Regions from separate parts of the Homo sapiens genome. Here region 1 is linked to region 2. Evidence: fine-mapped expression QTL. Tissue or cell type: esophagus muscle. Region 2 holds a variant in brackets; the other region holds the start of a gene. All regions are shown on one strand. Distances are between the middles of the regions.

What was found. PIP is the estimated chance that this variant, and not a neighbour inherited with it, causes the effect.
Region 1: it holds the start of ZDHHC14, and the variant in region 2 is fine-mapped to the expression of ZDHHC14 in esophagus muscle (GTEx, PIP 0.92).

What each region holds. Positions count from the first base shown.
Region 1 is chr6:157,377,614-157,384,945 of GRCh38, forward strand. ZDHHC14 (zDHHC palmitoyltransferase 14) reads left to right here and starts at 3,577. Exons shown (of 9, transcript NM_024630.3): 1 at 3,577-4,653. The coding sequence starts at 4,409. It overlaps LOC124901446, which reads right to left and starts at 3,478. Exons shown (of 1, transcript XM_047419644.1): 1 at 1,701-3,478. The coding sequence starts at 3,088. The coding sequence ends at 2,198. RefSeq lists enhancers at 1,901-2,513, 3,125-3,736, 4,495-4,634 and silencers at 2,715-2,794, 2,955-3,844, 4,355-4,404.
Region 2 is chr6:157,598,277-157,605,608 of GRCh38, forward strand. The region is part of intron 3 of ZDHHC14 (zDHHC palmitoyltransferase 14); the gene reads left to right. Among named protein-coding and RNA genes, the nearest start is that of MIR3692, 73 kb to the left of the region's middle. The variant A/G (reference allele first, on the strand shown) is at 4,031.

The DNA of each region.
Region 1 (7,332 bases), 220 kb before region 2:
GGTTTTTCTTTGTACCCCTAGAATTTTCCAGGTTGTTCTGCCTTGAGGACTTGGTACTTGCCCCTTCCCATCATTCGATTCTCTGCCCGACCCCAGTCTCTCCATCCCATAACCCTGCTTTGTTTTTTCGTTCTTGTAATTACTCTCTGAAATTGTCTTACTAGTCATTTATTTATTTGTTTATTCTCTCCACCTCTCCCCCAGTCCCCAAATATAAGCTTCTATCTTGGATCTTTTTGTATCACTGCTGCTAAAACAGTACTTAGCACAATCTAGGCCCTGAAATAGATAACTGTAAAATAAATGAATAAACTCTACCATCCCTTATACAGTAGGTTTTACAGTCATCCCTCAGTATCCTCAGGAGATTGGTTCCAGGATCACCTGCGTATACCTGAATCTGCACATATTCAGGTCCTTAAACAGGCTCCACAGAACCTGCATATAGGAAGAGTGGGCCTTTGCCCTCTGAATACTCGCATTTCCCATCCCACGGATGCTGTATTTTCCATCTGCATTTGGTTGAAAAAAATCCGTGTCTAAGGGCATCCACGCTGTTCAAACCCATATTGTTCAAGATCAACTGTAGCTGGTGAGGTGAACTCTGCAGCTATCACACACCAGGTTCTAGTGAACGCTCTTAGGGGAGGGTAACCCATACAAGTGAATTAACCGCAGAGGTCTTAGTACACATGGAGTGGGAAGAAAAAAGTTATCCCCTGGAAGACAACTACAGACAATTGTATCAGCTATTTAGAAATCATATCAGCATATCTTATTTGCTGTGGAAACTTTAGGTAACATTTTAAAACGAATTCATTTCTTTTTATTATGGAAAATGTCAAACATAAACATGAGTAGATGTGGTAGGTAAGAAAAGCATAATGGACTCTCATGTACACTGTGGTGGATGCACTCCGGGGTGTCCCTCACCCTAGGGTTCATGCCCTGTGTACTCCTCTCCCTTTGAGTGTGTGCAAAACATGCTTTCTGGCCAACAGAATGTTCACATTTGAAGTTGCCCCCGTGGGATTGCTTTATGTTATATAAAATTCTGTCTTGCTGGAGACTCACTCTGGGGACTCTCCTTGCAGGCCTGACAAAATAAGTGGCTGTGCTCGGAAAGCCCAAGTGACAATGAAGTCCAGGTAACCTCTAGGAATTGCAGGTTCCCTCTTGGAGCTGAGGACAGTCTCCAGTCTCCAGCCAGCAAGAAGCCAGGGCCCTCGGTCCTACTGCTGCAAGGAAAGGAATTTTGCCTGTGCCCGGAGTCAGAGTGGAAGCCAGTTCTTCTCCAGTGAATGTGAACGCAGCCTGGCCAGCCCCTTGATGGCAGGCGTGAGACCCTAAGTGGGGGACTGAGTGTACCTGGACACCTGATCCATAAAAACTGTGAGAAAAATCTGTCTTGTTTTAAGGCCACTACGTTTGTGGCAATTTGCAGCAATAAATAATTAAGTACAAGTACATGTCACCCAAGGTCAACTATTTTCAACAGTTTCCAATTGTTTCATTTATACCTCCATGTCTGGAGCTGGGTGGGTGGGAGGAGGGGAGTGGATGGGCTGGTGTGTTTTAAAGCACATTTCAGACTTTATATTATTTCGCTGGCAGATACTTTAGTACATATCTCTAACAGACAAGGAAGGACTTTTTAAAAGCATAACCATAATGCCAGAAAAATTCGGTTTCATTGAGAATAAGAGTGGGAGTCTTTTTTAATGCCATCAAATCAATGGATCTATTATATTAATTGGACACCCACAGAAAAGGTGCTTGCAATAAACAGAATAAGAATAATACCCCGTTGATCTCATTAGCTAAAGGACAGGAAAGCATATGAGAGCTTTCACTTGAAATGTATGAAGCTTTCCAGTTGGTTTTTTAAAACTAGTCCAGCCACAAATACTTAATTGTCCCTGTAATATGCTTGTCTCTCATACAATATCTAAAATAATTAAAACCCAATTATTATCGTGTGCTTAAGATCCATTCTCCCTAGACTCTAACCGGCTTTGGAATGGACCCCTGTAAATTTCACTTGTATTCAAAACTCCTTGTAATTGCATGTCATACTCTAATTGCTATTCCCATCACTTTTTCCTTACCACAGCTCCTCCCAACTGGCCCTCTTGGATAAGCCAATCTCATCCCCCTTCGACACTCCTCACTGAGGCACGCTTTGTAAGGGACATACTTAGGGCTCTGGGTTCGATGCCATCTCTACTACTTGGGAGCTTTGTGATGTTTGGCCAGTAGTTAAGCTTTCTCTAAGCTGGATACAATAATGCCTCACCGGGTTCCGGCGAAGATTAGACAAAGAACATGTGTAACGTGCAAACTGCCCAGTACAGAGAAGGCACCGTTCCCCACAACCCCCTTTGTTGGTTCCCATCTCCCACCACCTAGCCCCAGAACGCCCAGCACCACGCCTCTCCTGCCCTTGTCGCGGGGGATGCAGGGACTTGTAGTTTCTAAGGCCCCGAGTCGTGCTTCTCCTCGGCGCAGGCCTGCGGGCGGAAGAACTACACATCCCAGTGGGCTGTGAAAGGAAAGTGGGGCTCGGGAAATTGAGCATCCCTGCCCAGCTGCCTTCGTTTTCTGCGGCCCCGGGGCTATGCCCACCTCTGCGGGGGCTCGGACCCGCGGCAACGCCTGGGAGGGCGCGAGCGAGCAGAAGCCCCAGGCTCCGGCCGTCCCAGGGCCGCGCCCGCAGCTCCTCCTGGGCTGTCGGGTGGGAAGGGGGGAGGCGCAGGCGGGAGAGGAGAAGCACGCGACCCCTCCGCTGCCGAGGGGGCTCCACGGGGGAATGGAGGGAGAAATAAAGCGAGCAGCTGTAAACGTCCGTGGGGAGAAGTGGAGACCGAAAGAGCTGGGCGGCAGCAACCCAAAACCTGGCCTCCAAGGGCTTATACTCCGGGAGGGAGGCCGGGGCCGGAGGGGACCCTGACCGCTTCCTCTGCCCTTCTTTCTCGGCCCGGAAGCCGGCCGAGCCGGGCCCCGAGACCCTCGCCCGCAGCCCGGTCCCGAAGTCAGGCCGGCCTAGGGCCGCCCCACCCCATCCTGGCACCCGGCACCCCCAGCCCATTTCTCGGGCATCACCAGAGTCCCCGGGCGACGCGACCACGCGCCCAGCTGGGGAGGAGGAAGAAGGGAGGCGCAGGCCGGGGAGGGTCACCTCCGCGCCGCGGCTCCTCAGGTCCCGGGGAGTCGCCAGGAGTGGCTTGCCGGTGGCCGTGGGAATGAGCGTGTCCCGAGGCGGCAGCTGCTGCGCGGGATAAACCCGGAAGAAGCCGCGAGACGGACTGAAGTCGGCCAGGAGCGCACTGCGCGGCGGGGCCGCGGGCGCCCGACCCCATCCCTACTTGGGCGATGCCACAGGGAGCCCCGCGCCTTCCACACCCCAGGGCGCCCGCCCGAGGGGGCTGGGGCTGGAATCTCGCTGCGCCGGTGCCCTGGCTTCGCGGGCGAGGAGGAGGAGGAGCAGGAGGAGGAGCCGCGGGTGAGGCGCGAGGCCACCGCCCACCCGGCCCGGAGGAGGCGGACCCACTCGGAGCGCCGCGCGCGCGCCGGGCTGAGCCTTGCAAACAAGTGTCTGTGCTGTGTCCCCGCGGCCCTCCTCGCGCCGGGGCCGCTTCCTCCGGGTAGGAGGGAGCAAGGGAGCCCTCGCCGCGCGGCCCGCGAGCCGCCGCCGCCCTCGGCCCGCGCATCCCCGCGCGGGGGCCGCGGATTCGACTAGGCTGCCAGGCGCAGCGACACCGGGTCGCGGTGCGAGCGGCGCCCCGGCTCTCGCCGAGAGGCTCCTGACAGAAAAACGTGCGTGGTTGTCCCCACCCCTGGGAGGGGTTGCCGGTGCCGCGCGCGGCCGCCCAGTCGCCAGCGCTCTCTCCTGGGAGGATCCGCTGCCGGAGGAAGGAGTGGACCCAACCTGGCCGCGCCGCAGAAGTGGCTCCCGAGGAAGCCGGCGCCGGGGCCGCCGCCTCGTGTCCCCTCGGGGCGCAGTGCTCGGGGGTCGGCGGGCCAGAGCCGAGGCGCGGCCGGGGAGCCGGGGGCTGCGGGGCCGAGCGGGCAGCCGCGCGAGGGGGCGGGCGCTCGGCGACCCGGGGGCCGGCCGGGCTGAGCCCCGCGCCCCGGGACGCGGGCTGGAAGCGACGGAGGAGTGCTGCCGCGGGCTGCGGACCAGCGCCGTCCCCTCACGGAGCGGGGATTCTGCTATGACAGTTGGGCTCCCCGGAGGGTTAACCTGGGTGTCCTCGGCAAAGTTGTCGCCGAGCCGGGAGCCCGTGTAGGGGCCGCGGCGCCGCGGCTCGGGGGGCGGCCGGGCGGCCGGCGGCGGTCGTGGCTCGGCGGGGCCCGCGCGGCCGGGGGGCTCCTGGGGGTGTGCGCCCCCAGCCGGCTGCCCTCGTGGATGCCTCCCGGCGGCGGCGGGCCCATGAAAGACTGCGAGTACAGCCAGATCAGCACCCACAGCTCCTCCCCCATGGAGTCGCCCCACAAGAAGAAGAAAATCGCGGCCCGGAGGAAATGGGAGGTGTTCCCGGGAAGAAACAAGTTCTTCTGTAACGGGAGGATCATGATGGCCCGGCAGACGGGCGTCTTCTACCTGACGCTCGTCCTCATCCTGGTCACTAGCGGACTCTTCTTCGCCTTCGAGTAAGTGGTGGCGACCGCTCCCCCGACGCCGCACTCCCCTGGTCTCCCCTGTCCCCCGCCCCTCCTCGGGCTGCTTTCGTTTTCTAGAAGTCTTATCTACTGTAAATTGTTATATAATGCCAGTCTGCGCTCCCTCTTTTTTCTTTTAAAGGTCTGATTGCTTTTGGGCCCCCGGAAAGAACGCCGTTCTGGGCTGGGCTTCTGGGAGCAGGGAGGGAAGGGGTCCACTTGCAAGGGGGGCCAGGCCTTGCCAATCCAGGTGGCGGATGGGACCCAGCAGGTGGGGCCGCCGGTCCCTGATCCTTGGGGCGCTCTCTACCGAGTTTGGGGACCCAGCAAATCAGCCCAGATGTAGCCTGCCGTGGGAAGGTGGGGTGCGATAGATTCCTAAGTCAGGGATACATGGAACTGACTTTTTCCCCCTTGCTGACAACATATAGGGCATCTTCTTAAGCTCAGTTGACTGAATCTCCCATGTAACTTCGACGAATAATTGAGGAATCTTGGCTATTTCAGGTTTCAAAGTGTCGGCTGCCTAGTGTGCCCTGGATAGATCATTGCATTCTCCAGCCTCCTACATGCTCACTCTGGATTAACAATTTCTTATTTGCCATGAGGTTTCTAAACTCTTCACTTTCAAAAAGGTTGCAATAAAAGGTGTCCAAAACAAACAATTTGGGAACATGTGAAAGGAGACCTTAGGTCTGTTAAGGAAGAGGATGACACTACGTGACAACTTCCGATTCCAGAAACAGTCTGGACTTCAGGGATTATATCTGGGGGGATAAAAAGCGCATGCAAGTCTTCACCGTTTTCAGGAAAATCAAATTGGCCAGTAGCAACTGTCCTCCTGCCAACTAATGAAAGGTCTTCTTATTTATTAGCAGTGATTAGATAAAGCAGTTAAACCACATTCCAATCAATTTTGGTTGCTTTTTTTGCATCCAACATTTGGAATGCAACTCCTTATGTAATTTCTGGTATCCTATGTTCAATGAAAGGTGGAGTTACTTTTTTCCCCTCAGAATTTAAAGAAAGCAATATATTTATAGGGAGCTCTTCTTTGGGCTTCCCAAATCCTGGTTATTATTGGGCTTGATACTCCTTCAGTCTCCGCCTCCTCCTGTTGGGTAGGCTCAATTAAAACCTTTTGAATTTATTTACTTTTGTTTCTGATTAGGATTAATAGGCTCTAATTTTGTGCCTGGCTTTTGCTCTTCCAAATGCTGTCTCAATTGGAAATGAATGATCTCTTGACAACGTAATACTTGTCGCTCAAAGCCCTCTGACTCTCAGGAGAAACGTTTTGTATCTGGACACTGTGCGCTGATTAGCAGTTTTAAGAGGACTGAGTTAGACCAGGCGATGAGAAGGATCTCTGATTTAAGCGAATTCCCCTTCCCCAGTCCTTCTCACACACAACTCCTCTTCCCCATTTCCGATGGTATGTGCAGTTCCCGGGTCCCCCTTGATGTTTAGGTTCTGTGTCTGTTTGACACTAGTAGGTAGAGTCAGTGGGGAGACCTGTGGACGGGAGGGGAAGGGTGTGAACAGGCATTCAGAGTGGCAGGGAGACACACTCTACTCATGCTGCTGTTGCTCCCATGGGCCCCCATTGAGAGCAGCCTCTTGTCCTTACAGACCTTGGAAACTGGAAGAAGGGGCATAGAGGTTCCCCATGAGTTTACGTTATCTGTTAGGATGAACACTGGCACTGGAAGCGTGATGCCATGTGGTTTAACAGAAATGCCATCTCTCTAATGGTGAATTTAGTTACAGGTGGTCCTCTAGTTGCAGAGTATTAACTGTGTTCCTACAGTTTTTTAAAAAAAATCTTGAACAGATCCAAATTGGCACTTTTGCTCTTTTTAGCGATTTTAACTGTGGAGAAAATGGGTTAATTTTGTGATTCTGTTGCAGAGCTTCAGCCACAAGTGTGCTCCATGGAGGATGATGAATATTTCATTTTCTGTATATACCCAAGTCCCCACTGTATGCTTAGGGATCCCCCCAGTTATTACTTAACATCTTTTATTTTCTTCATTCAAACATAGCTTCTAACCAAACCATCATAAATTCATTTTCGTTTCTTGATCTCTGCGTGTGTTTTTTCAAGAGTTCCCAAAAGTCCTCACTAGCAGGTTGTTAAGGATCTTTCTCTGTGTCAGTGTTATGTTAACTGATGACTGTAGGAATAAATGTGTGCGCCGGGATTTTATTAGCTGCTATTTGCAGCATCTTTTTTATATCAGCTCTGTGGGAGCGTATGTGTGTATATGTGTGTGTGTTTGCTCTCCATGGTTGTTGCTTCAACTAGGCAATTTGACATTTCAAGAAAACAAGAGGCCCATCCTAGTATGATGCCTCTGTTTGGAAAAATCAGAGGCTATTCGAGCTACAGAATATTATGGTTTAGCTGAGAATATTTGTCACTGTATTGCTTTCAAATTCTTTATTCATAAATTAAATAACCAATTTGACCAAATTAATTTGCTAGAGACCAAAGAACAAGTTAACCCCATACAGAGGAAGAAAATACCAACAGGCCAATCCCTAAGCGAGATCCAGAGGAAATGCCAGTACTGCCTGCCCCTGGCCTGCCTTTCTCCTGCCTTCCTCTAGTTATGTGGTCCTCTATTTTGATTGTTTAATTTCATGTCTAGATAGCTTTTTTAAAAA
Region 2 (7,332 bases):
ATGAGGGGGCTATTAGTTTCTCATAGGAAAGCAGGTCATTGGAGGGGAGTGGAGGGAGCTGAGATTCGTATCCTTGTTGGAACCAAAACAAACAGGACTTTACTGATTCTCCTGGTTTCCGCTATCTCTTCATTTCACCAACATTGAATAAGCATCTATGTGTTAAGTGCTGTGACAATAACTAAGTATGTGAAAATATGAGCCAGTCCCCAGGGATCATTATTAAGAGCAGACCAAGGAGAACTCAAGGCAGACAGTATTGTATTTATCATATTACACAGGTTAAAGAGTAATTTTATATTGGTTAAGAGTAGAATTAAATTACCAACATTTATGCACCAAATAACATTGCATCAAAATATATAAAGTAAAGGTTGTTAGAAAATGCAAAGGTAATTTGTTACATAATGCTAGTGAGAAATAATAGCATACATCTGTTTTTCATGGCTCAGGTCAACAAACTGTAAGTAGAGTATGCCAGTGTATAAGTATAATAAATGTATGTTGAACTTCGTTTTTACAAAGTGTACTTACCATGTTCAACCATTCATGGAACATTTACAAAAATTAATCATATTAAGCCCAAAACACTTTCCAGCGTTCTAAAGGCAGATATCACACTGAAAATGTCATCTGATGAAACAATAAAACTAGAAATGAATCACAAAGATAGAAATGTACAAACATACCTAATTGTAATGCTTTTAAAAAAAACTTTAAAAAACTTTTATAAATCTTTGTAAAGAAGCTTTTTAAAGAGGCTTTTCATAAATCTTGGGTGACAGAAACTTCAAAACTGCAGTTGTAAAATATTTAGAAAATGGCAGTAAGAACAATGCAAAAGAAAACCATGCCATTCAGAATTCTACATTTTAAACATGAGAAATAGTTAATCTAAGCAGAAGAGGAATGAACCAGAAGACTGTCGGGTTGCCGGTAGAATCAACAAGGAGGCTGGAGAATGAGGCTCAGAAACCAGGAACAGTGGAGGAGGCTGGGCAGCCCCGCACGGCCAGTTGCATCTGCAGCAGGATGTTGCAGGAGGCAAGTACCACAGGTAGGACGTTTGCGGCACCACCACTGAGTTCCCTCTGCTGCAGCTCTCGACGAAACTCTGACTGTCTTCAAAGACCACAACTCCGGATTCAGACACCTGGGTGGGAGCCCTTGGCCTGTTTTGTTTCCACGCCCAAGCAGACAGCCAGGCGAAGGTGGCGACTGCCCCACACTCAGCATCTATAATGAGGATGGGAGGATGGGGCCCTGCCTCCCACCTATTTTGGGGTTCTCCCCAAACAGGAAGTTTACTTTAATGGTGGATGGCCAATGAAATAAAATACTTTAAAAAGTCTAGTACAAAAAATAAACTGAACTTAGAAGCAAATAAATGAACAAAGCATCCATCTCCAGAAGGCAGAAAAAGAGCAGCAAATAAACTTAAGGGAAACCATAAGAAAACAATGACTTAGAAAACAGCAACCAATAGGTTGCCAAATCTAATTCTTTGGAGAACAACCAACCAAGGCATTAACGTCTGGTAAGACAAAGAAATTAACAAAGTGCAAGTAACAGATTCAAATGAAACAAATATAGGTGAGATGGTTTTCTATAATTATTGAGAAATATATTATTTTGCCGTTGTGTTAACTCTATGCCAATTGATTTGAAAAATCTCAGTGAAACATGATTGTATAGGAAAATGGGCCAAGGAGTGAGTAGAAAACTGGAATTGATTACTAGCCATGAAAAACTGAAAAGTTTTATGAAGAACCATGTGAGAAAGGTGCTGGGCCCAGACAGCTTACTTCCTATGTTCTGAGTAGTGTCTGAGAGCTTCGGAAAGGTTGAATGGTTTTTCAGTTCATTTCACCAAAATAGTATAACCCTAACACCAAAACCTTACAAAAATAACATGCAGAATAAAACCCCCACCCTTATTTATAAACATTACAACAAGCCAACGTGAAGACATAGCAAACTTAATCTACCAGTATAATAAAGAATTAGTCATGACATGGAAGGATGTATTCCAGGAATGTGATTTTTTAATGTTAATAAAACTATTAGTATATCAATAGGTCAAAAGATAAAAGGTATATGTGATCATGATAATAGATAATAAAAAGGGATTTGATAAAATGCGACATTTGTTTTGTATTTTTTGTGACAGTCTTGCTCTGTCACCCAGGCTGGAGTGCAGCTCACTGCAACCTCCGCCTCCCAGATTCAAGTGATTCTCCTGCCTCAGCCTCCCGAGTAGCTGGGATTACAGGTGTGCACCACCACGCCTGGCTAATTTTTGTGTTTTTAGTAAAGATGGGGTTTCATTATGTTGGCCAGGCTGGTCTTGAACTACTGACCTCAAGTGATTGGCCCACCTTGACATCCCAAAGTGTTGGGATTACAGGCGTGAGCCACCGCACCTGGCCAAGACATTCATTTGTAGCTATAGAACTCAGTGTATCCAGATTGGAAGGTGTGGTAGGCAGAATTCTGGCCCCCATGACTGCCCCTTCCCCTCACACCCCCCGGGTTGCTCCAATGGTTATGTCACGTTGCTTGGCAAAAGGGACTTTGTAGATGTCATAAAAGGTGACTAATCAGCTGACTTGAGAGAGTTTATCCTGGATTATCCAAGGGGCCCAGTGTAATTCCAAGAGCCCTCAAGAGCAGAGCTGGAGAGATGCCGCGCAGGAGGCCTGGGTGCCGTTTCGGAGCAGGATGGAAGGCGGTGAATCCCGCCTCCAGCATGGAGCTCGGGAGAGGCCCTGACTGCAGATGGAGAGGCTGCCCTGGCCGCAGCGCACGGGGCTCCTGACCCACAAAAATCGCGAGATAATGAGTTCATGTTGTTTGAAAGTCCGTCATTTCTGGTAATTTGCTATATAAAACTATTGCTATACGATTAAAAACTAATACAGAAGAATATTTCTTTAACATTATGTTAAAAAGGAAAAAAGCTAACATTTTCTTTATAGCAAAACACTGCCATGATTTACATTAAAATTAGGAACAAATTAGGATGTCTAGTATCATTACTAATATTTTACAATATCTTTTCTAATTAATGTGGTAATGTAGGAAAATAAACACAAATATATAACTATCAAAAAAGAAGAAACAAAATCACCATATTTTGTAGCTGACAAGAGCAATAATAACAGTACCAACAAACATTAGAACTAGTTTTTTTATGTTTAGTAGGTTTATCAGTTACCTAATAAATACATTAAAATAGCATACTATGTATCAGTTAGGAATTGTAATAAAAATCAAGACATGTACTCTCCACAAATTTATTTAAATTTAATGAATTATGAGTCGGGGGGCAAGATAAAATAGCTGTGAAATGTAATTAGAAGAATATACAAACAACAAACAATAACATTTCAAACCTAGAACGATGCAAGGAAACATGCACTATTTGATATTATGAGGTCCTGTGAAGTCCAAAGATGAGTTACAGAAAGTGACTTCAGGGCCCATGCACATGCTTTCTGTGTGTATGTGCATGTGTGTAAGTGATTTCTTCATTGCCCATTTTTGTATTTTCCACATCTCCAAAGTGACCATTAAAATGCACCATTCTTGGTAGGCAGCGTCTTCATTCTGGCTGGGGAAGGCAGAGATAAAGAATGCATTCAGGGCTGGGCGCGGTGGCTCACGCCTGTAATCCCAGCACTTTGGGAGGCCGAGGCGGGCAGATCACAAGGTCAAGAGATCAAGACCATCCTGGCCAATATGGTGAAACCGCGTCTCTACTAAAAATACAAAAATTGGCTGGGCATGGTAGCACACCCCTGTAATCCCAGCTACTAGGGAGGCTTAGGCAGGAGAATTGCTTGAACCCGGGAGGCTCGAGGTTGCAGTGAGCCAAGATTGTGCCACTGCACTCCAGCCTGGGGACAGAGCGAGATTCTGTCTCAAAAAAAAAAAAAAATGCATTCAGGCTGGTCATGGTGGCTTACGCCTGTAATCCCAGCACTTTGGGAGGTCAAGGTGGGCCAGTCACTTGAGGTCAGGTGTTCGA[A/G]ACCAGCCTGGCCAACATGGTGAAACCCCGTCTCTACTAAAAATCCAAAAATTAGCACCTGTAATCCCAGCTACTAGGAAGGCTGAGGCAGGAGAATCGCTTGAACCTGGGAGGCAGAGGTTGCAGTGAGCCGAGATGGCACCACTGCACTCCAGCCTGGGCAACAGAGCAAGACTCCGTTTCAAAAAAAAAAAAAAAAAAACGCATTCAGTGCCACCGGGAGCTGTGTGCAGGTTCTGGGAGAGCGCAGATTCCCCAGTTTGTCCCTATGCTGAGTTGCCAAGGCTAAATAGGAGTTACAGTGTATAGACTACCTGGGGTACTGAACGGTAGGACAGAAGCTCAGGGATGTTCAGGGCAGGCAGGGCATCCAGCCTGGCGGGGTGTGTGAAAGTGTCAGGAAGGCCGGGCTCCTGAGCATGCAGGGAGCTGCTTACTCTTCACCCGCCATGAGGATGCTTCCTCTGAGCTTTCTGGAGTGCTACGTACCCAGGCTGGGTTCTGCTGCTGCTGAGGGCACCAGCCCCTTCGTGCTAGCCTGTCAGTTTTGTCTTAGTGTCTGGAGTTTAGTCGTTTCTTTGTGGTTTAAGCAACAGGTCCTGTAACTAAACTTAAAAATCAATCAAACAATCTAATCCATGCTTTCGGGTCCAAGCCACCAGTCATGTCTGCACCCTTTGCTAGTCACTGAGCTCTCTGGAAAGTACCTGCACACCCCAGACCGTGGGGCCATCGTCCCCCTGGGTGTCTGAAGTGGATGTTGCCGTGGCTTACTGCAGGCTGGGACGTCCACAGTGCTTCATGGCAGTGCCAGGGCCCAGGGCTGGACATGGAGAGTCAGGTGAGGAATCCAGCCATCTCTGTGGAACGCTTTGTGAAGCAAGTGTTTACAATGAATCCAGAAGCACTTATGGAGTGGCTGCTATGTGCACGTAGAGGGCAAAGAAATTTCACACAGGTTCGTTCCCTGCCCTTAACGAGTTTTCCACGTAGTTATGAAAAGATAACTAACATCATAAAGAAGTACTTGACAAGGTCGTAGCACTCAGGATGGTCATTTTAGACCAATTCCCGTAAAGGGGAGAAATGAGAGAAAAGGCTGAAGAAATTAGCTGGCAGCCACACTGAGAGGCCCTTGGATGCCCATCTAGGAAAGAGGGACTTGACTCAGCTGCTGGAGCACGATGCTTGAACAGGAGATTGAGAGGGCTGGAATTCAGCCCTAGGAGGACTGATCTGGCATCCGAGTATAAAGTGAGCTGATGACAGGTAGTAGGCAGCTGTTGTCTGATGATGCCGTATTACAAGCACCCTCAAAAACCTCTGTGGCCCTTAACAAGCAGCATTTCTTTTTCTCGTGTGTCTGTGGGACATCTGGGGCAGCTCTGCGGATTAGGCAAGGCTCGGCCCCGGGCGTTGGTTCAGGTTCAGGTCTCCTCAAATGTTTTTCCAGGACCCAGGCTGAAGGGAGGGCAGCTACCTGTGGTACTTACTGGCCGCCATGGCCTAGAGCTGAGACATGCAGTATCCCTTACAACCTCTGCCTGTGGCGAAGACTCCATTGTCCAAGGAAGGCACACAACATGTCAGTGGGACAGGGAAGGGCACGCCACCTCAAGAGGGAGAGAAGTGAATACATTTGGCTCTCTGTATTCATGGGTTCCACATCCATGGATTCAACCAACCTCGAATCAAATATACTAAGAGAAAAAATTATGTCTGTACTGAATGGGTACAGGGGAGGCTGAGGCATGCAGATGGCTTGAGCCCAGGAGTTCAAGACCAGCCTGGGCAACATGGCAAAACTCCATCTCTACAAAAAATACAAAAATTAGCTAGGCGTGGTGGCGGGTGCCTGTAAGCCCAACTACCCAGGAGGCTGAGGCAGGTGGATCACCTGAACCAGGGAGATTGAGGCTACAGTGAACCTTGATCACGCCTCTGCGCTCCAGCCTGGGTGATGGAGTGAAAGCCTGTCTTAAAAAAAAAAAAAAAAAAAAGTAATCTAGAGTTGACCTGAAGGATACTGGAGGCTATGCATAGGCTATATGCAAACACTACTCCATTTCTTAGCAGGGATTTGAGCATCTGTGGGTTTCGATATCTGAGGGAGGTCCTGGAAGCAATCCCCCTTGGATACGGAGGGATGACTGTGTTTACTAGAACAATACAGCCTCTCACATGAGGGGAGACTTGAAGACCCAAGACCAGTTATTTTCTAAGAAGCAGTTGTGTATTTGTTACTCTTTTTTTTTTTTTGAGACGGATTCTTGCTCTGTTGCCCAGGCTGGAGTGCAGTGGCACGATCTCGGCTGCAACCTCCGCCTCCCGGGTTCAAGCAATTCTCCTGCCTCAGCCTCCAAAGTAGCTGGGACTACAGGCACGTGTCACCACACCCGGCTAATTTTTGTAATTTTAGTAGAGACGGTGTTTCACCATATTGGTCAGGCTGGTCTCGAACTCCTGACCTCAGGTGATCCACCTGCCTCGGCCTCCCAAAATGCTGGGATTACAGGTGTGAGCCACCATGCCCAGCCCTACACAGTGCCTTGCTAGGTGCGCAGTAATCTGTTGTTGACATGAGTTGCCCAGAATTGAAATTGGCTTCCAGCAATGGATATTGGAGTTAGGGAAGCAGAAGATGAAACATACCTTACCAGCCCTGAAGTTTCTTCTTCCAAGATATTTGTGGCTGTGTCAGCTGATCCAGCTGCTCTCTGTTGAGTGTTGGCAATAAACGTTTCACCAAATTCCACCCACTATTTGTAGGAGTTGGGCAGAACTGAGCTGTTAAAGCCTAGAAACTTTGATAGTGAATAATAACCCATGTGCCTTAGTTTTGAAAGCTTAATATGTGTTTGCACATTTTTTAAAAAAGAGCTATGAAATAATTTGGTTTGCTGGAACAGGTTAAGTTTTATTTTGTTTTAAAAAAGGTTGAAAAGTATTTTAAATAAAAGACTAATTGAAATGGAAAGATTATATTTTGGGAGAAGCAAGAAGAAAGTGTATTTTAAAATCCAGTAATGTGCCTTTGGAAATGTAATGATTATCTTTTTTTAATTAAATAAGTGAAATGAATACTTAGAAACTATTTGTACTAAGAGAGCTCTTCCATTTTCATAATACCATCCTTTATTTATGTATGGATTCTTACATTTGGAGGAAGTCTTCCCTGTGTTACCAAGCAATGGGCTGGAAAGTGTCACCCCCATTTGCTGTGGAACTCAGGTTCAGAGAGGGCAGAGACTTGACTCCGATCAGACAGCAAGGTAAGAACTGGAAGGCAGCCTCCCAGGCCC